Regions from separate parts of the Homo sapiens genome. Here region 1 is linked to region 2. Evidence: fine-mapped expression QTL. Tissue or cell type: tibial nerve. Region 2 holds a variant in brackets; the other region holds the start of a gene. All regions are shown on one strand. Distances are between the middles of the regions.

Region 1 (2,752 bases), 36 kb before region 2:
AAGCCTGCAGCTTGGGACCCTCCTGGGACCCTGCACCCGCCAGTGCCCTGCCCTCCTGGGCTCTCATGGGAGTGAAGGAGGGTGGGCTCTGTAGGAGTTAAAGAAAGAGGAAAGAAACATGAAAAGCGGCTCAACAAAGGCAGGTTTATTTTGGAGAATAAACCTGAAAGGGACTTCTGGCCGATTTTGGTCAGGAGCCATCTCTCCTACAGACTAAGGATCTTTAAGGGTTTAGGAAGTGGGGAGCTTATCGCAGGCTCGGAATGTTTCTATGTGAGGGAAAGTTTATTGCGGGCTTGGAATGTCTCTGGTCGGAGGGGAGGTTATCTCGAGGTTGGCATGTTTCTGATTGGAGATGTTATTTGTGGTTTACGGTCGTGCTGACATTAGCTATTGGGCTGATGTGTTTTGGGCTGGATTTAGGCAGCTTTTTAATCAAAGGGAACCTAAAATGGCGGTGTTTGTCCAAGAAGGCCATACTCCTGCTCTGTCCCGCTCCAGCCCTTGGGGGCCCCTCGGGCTCTTCTCTTGGATGGTGTGTGAATGGGCACATGTGGAGGGGCTGGTCCAGCTCTGCCTGCCTCTGGCCATCCAAAGGAGGGACAGCAGGGCCTGGGCAGCAATGCCGGCCTTGGAGCCCCGGGGCTGTGGAGGCTGCTTGACAGGACACGGAGCCCCCTCTGTGCTCAGGTCGTGGAGGGCCTCGGGCACTACGGTCTGCCAGGCACCACATGTCACAGCTACTCAAACACCCAGGGCCGCCACGGAGGGCCAATGGCCGCAGGATGGCTCAGGACCCGCCCCACCCCTGTCGCTGCCTTTCTGGCTGCCCCCTAGTCCCTGGACAGGCGCTCCCCAGCCCCAAGCAGGCCCCAGCCAATCTCCTGCCCAGGCAGGAGCTCCCCCTGCCGCCCTCACAGACCTCACCTCTTCCTACACGTTTCCAAGGCCGCGCCCCGCCCCGCACCCCGCCAGGCCCCGCCCCGCACCCCGCCAGGCCCCGCCCCGCACCCCGCCAGGCCCCGCCCCGCACCCCGCCAGGCCCCGCCCCCACCCCGCCAGGCCCCGCCTCTCTCTCCGACCCTGGACAGTCCCCGGGACCCACCCCGCCCCCAGGTCCTGCCCCCGCCCGCCTCCGCGGGGCCTCCCACCCTCCCGGGCAGACTCCACTCCCGCCCCCTCCCCGTGGGTGCCCCCGCCGGCCCCGCCCTCCCAGGCTGCCCCCGGCGCCCCGGGCCTCCTCCGCGCAGTCCCTGAGTCCCGCAGGCCCTGCGTCCCCGCTGCACACCCCCGTCCACTCCCGTGGTCCCCGGTCCGGCATGGCGCGCGCGGTGGGGCCCGAGCGGAGGCTGCTGGCCGTCTACACCGGCGGCACCATTGGCATGCGGAGTGAGCTCGGCGGTGAGTCCGAGACCCTGGGCGGGGTAGGCCTCTGGACCTGGCCGCGACCGGGAGCCTCGGACCCTCCTGCACCCACGGGGGTCGTTGGGGAGTCAAATCCGCGCCTGGATGGGGGGTGCGGGCTGAGGTCGCTCTCCTCCGGTTCCGGCCACCGGCGTCCCCACGCATGGAGCCCCGACCTGGACAGAGGAGATTGCGGTGGGTTCTCGCCGTCGCGGTGCTCCCGGGAGCGCCCTGCGACCCTGGGGCCAGGCCCCCTGTGCTGCCGCTGCGCCCCTGAGGGCCAGCGTCCTGAAGTCCTGGAATATGGGGCGGGAGGGCCCCAGGGCATTGGCCTGCCGCTCCTGCTCTGGACACAGAAGGCTTAGGAGGCTGCCCTGGAGAAGGCTTAGGAGGCTGCGAGGACCCCTCAACTGCGACACCCAGGAGGGTGTCCCCGTCCCCTGGGGTCCTGGTCAGGCAGCAGTGGTTGGCACGATACTGGGGCTACCTGGCATCTGCGGGGACGCACGTGTTCACACCCGAGGTGGCCTCAGAGCCCTGCTTCCTCTGCCCCTGTGTGGACCTGGTTGACCAGAGACCAGCGATTGCGTCTGGACTGAGTTCTGCCTGGGTGGGGTCAGGGCCTGGGACAGGCACCGAGCTCTGTGGTACTCCAGCACAGTGCTGCCAGCCTGGGCTGGGCACAGGAAGGATGGTAGCTTGGGGAGCCTGAGGCCACCGGGATGGGGAGAGGACGGTTGCACTGGAGCCTCCAGAATGCCTGGGTGTTCCCCAGGAGGGCAGGACACTGCCTGGGGCCCCCAGATGGGCTCTGCTGTGATGTGGGGCCTCCCTTGGGGCCAGGACAGCCCCCTCGCCCCGTCTTGAACCTGTTTGCGACCCTCCATGGGCCACTGCCTGCCTTTCCCTCAGGAGCCCTTTCCACTCCTCCTCCTCCCACTCCCTGCTGCCCTGGCCCCTCCCCACACTCCTGCTTGTGTCCAGCGCAGCTCTCTCTCCTGGGACGGCTGGGACCCTCTCCGGCTCTGCCAGAGCCCAGGGCCTCCCCTGGCATGACCAGAACATTCTCTTGTCCCTTGCCCATCTGCCAACCACTTCCCCGCCCCTCCTATCCCCACCCCCTCTCACGGCCTGTTCCCTGGCAGCTGCCCCTCCTGGCCACCCCTTTCTGCTGAAGTGGCTGCTCAGAAGCCACCAGCACTCTGTCGGTGCTCTCAGATTCCACCCACCACACTGTGGCCGGTGCAGACCCCTCTGGAGGCCCACTCTGCGCCCAGCCCAGGAGACAAAGCCTAGTGGGGCTCGTCCACGAGGGACTCAGGTCCCCAAGAACGTGGCTGTCCAGGCT
Region 2 (2,752 bases):
CTGCTGATCACCCTACGTGGGACCAGCTCATGTACACGCTGCCCTACCCACTTGGACAGCTGAACAGCTTGTCTTTTCCACAAGAGAAAGGAACCTTCTGCCTTTTAAAGCCAGTGTTATTTTGGTCTCTGTTAAAGTAGCTAAACCAGTATGTGAAGGCAGGGGTTCTGACTCACTGCAGAGGCCCAGGCTCAGTGAGTAGGATGGGTGGCAGGGATCTGGGTCTTCACCAAGTTCCCAGGCGAGCCTGATAAATGCCCAAGGCTGACAGCAGCTGTCTTAGGCGAGAGACCTCAGGAAGAGAGACAGGCTGGGGGAAGGGGAGACAGGTCCTGAATCTGCAGCTATGGGTGGTGCCTGGCCTCTACTCCCTGGGAGCAGGAGCCTAGAGTAGAATTTGCATCTTAGCCTCTCTGTCCTTCCCCAGAGGAGTCCATAGCGCCCGCTGAACAGGTAACCTGCCAGGCCAGGGTCTGGGGGTGCCCACTCGAGGCTCATGGAATCTAATTGTATATGCAGGTCTCAGGCCATTTGTGCTGCTGTAACAAAACCTCTGAGATGGATAATTTATAAGGAACCACGAGAAATTTATTTCTTCGGATCTGGAGGCTGGAAGTCTAAGATCAAGGTGCTGGCAGGTTCAATAGCTTGTGAGGTCTCAGTCTCTGCTTCCAAGTTGGTGCCTTGCGTGGGTGCTCTGGAGGGGAGGGACACCATGTCCTCACACGACAGAAGGGATGAACAGCAGAAAGGATGGGAAGGGCAAACTCGCCCCCTCATGCCCTTTTATAAGGCACAAATCCTACCCATGAGGGTGGAGCACTCATGGCCTCCTCAGCTGCTGAAGGCATCAGCTCTTCATCCTGTTGCACTGGGGATGAAGTTTCAACATGAATTTTGGAGGGTCACAAGCACTCAAGCCATGGCAACATATTTGCAGTTGAGAATCATCAGAGGGAGGACAGATGATGGCTCCTTCCTGGGTGACTAGATAAGCCCCATGGGACAGCACATCTGTCACAGGGCTGTGGGGTCACTGTGACTGGCTTTCTGAGTATCTTTCCGTGGTTCTGAGGCTGCCCGGGGAGCAAAGTTGTGCTGGGAGGGCACACATACAAGCTGAGTTGCCTTGAGCCCGCCAGTCTTTGTCGGGGGTGTCACTATTTTTCTTGGGTTTATTGAAATGCCACTGACCTACAGTAAAGTGCACAGGTTTACAGTGTACAATTTGATGACTCTTGACATATATATGCACATCTGTGAAACCATGACCACAGTCAAGATGATAAACC[G/A]TTGACCAAACACAGCTACCTGCAGGGTTCATCCAGCCCTTGGTGATCCCTCTTTACTTCCCCAACTCCTCCCACCCCTGGAGTTTTCTTTGTTGGAAAGAACTCCAAATTCAACTTATTTCCTAGATATAGGAACATTCAGCATATCTATTTCTTCTTGAGTGAGTTTTAGTGATTGTTTCTTTTACAGGATTTATTTAATCTAATGTTGAATTTATTGGTATAAAGTTATGCATACTATTCCATTATTATCTTTGAATATCTGTAGACTGTGGTGATGAACCATTTCTCATTCTTAATATTAATTATGTGTTTTCTCTTTTTTTCTTGATCCATCTGGATAGAGGTTTATAATTTTTATCAATTTTGGGAAAGAACCAGCTTTTGGTTTTATTGATTTTCTCTATTGTTTTTCTGTTTTCTATCTCAATGATTTCCACTCTGATCTTTATTATTTCCTTTCTTCTCCTGACTTTGACTTTTATTTGCTCCCTTTTTCTAGTTTCTTTTTTAAATGTTTTATTTATTTGACATATAAAATTGTATATATTTATCATGTACAACATGTTGTTTTGATATACATATAATTATGGAATGCCTAAATCAAGCTAATCAATATATGCATTACTTTACCTACTTATCTTTTTTTGTGGTGAGAACACTTTCTTAGCAATTTTCAAAAGTACAATACATTGTTATTAACTATAGTTACCATGTTATACAATAGATCTCTAGAACCTATTCCTCCTAACTGAAATTTTGAATCATTTGACCAACACCTCCTCAACTTCTTTTTCTTAAGGTAGAAGCTGAGGTCACTGATGACCTTTCATCTTTTCTAATGTAGTCATTTTATTGCTATAATTTCCGTCTAAGCACTGCTTTAGCTCCATTATACAAATGTAGATGTAGTGTGCTTTCAGGTTCATTCACTTTAAGATACTTGCTAATTCCCGTTTTGAATTTTTCTTTGACATTTGGATTATTTAGAATTCCCTTCCCTTACCTTCTCTTCCCTCCCCTCCCCTCCCTCCTTCTTTCTTTCTCTTTCTTTCTTTCTTTCTTTCTTTCTTTCTTTCTTTCTTTCTTTCTTTCTTTCTTTCTCTCTCTCCCTCTCTCTCTTTCTTTCTTTCCTTCTTTCTTTCTTTCCTTCCTTCTTTCTTTCTTCTTTTCTTTCTTTTTCTTTTCTTTTCTTTCTTTTTTTGACGAGTCTGAGTCTGTTTCCCACATTGGAGTGCAGTGGCACGATCTCCACTCACCACAACTTCTACCTGCCAGGCTCAAGCAATCCTTCCACCTCAGCCCCTGAAGTAGCTGGGACTACAGGTGTGTGCCACCATGCCTGGCTAATTTTTGTAGTTTTTGTAGACATGGGGTTTTGTCATGTTACCCAGGCTGGTCTCAAACTCCTGGGCTCAGGTGATACACCAGCCTTGGCCTCCCAAAGTGCTGGGATTATA

The links. PIP is the estimated chance that this variant, and not a neighbour inherited with it, causes the effect.
Region 1: ASPG starts here. The variant in region 2 is fine-mapped to the expression of ASPG in tibial nerve (GTEx, PIP above 0.99).

The regions. Positions count from the first base shown.
Region 1 is chr14:104,084,452-104,087,203 of GRCh38, forward strand. It overlaps ASPG (asparaginase), which reads left to right and starts at 1,249. Exons shown (of 16, transcript NM_001080464.3): 1 at 1,249-1,401. The coding sequence starts at 1,320.
Region 2 is chr14:104,120,241-104,122,992 of GRCh38, forward strand. No RefSeq gene overlaps it. Among named protein-coding and RNA genes, the nearest start is that of MIR203B, 4.1 kb to the left of the region's middle. The variant G/A (reference allele first, on the strand shown) is at 1,293.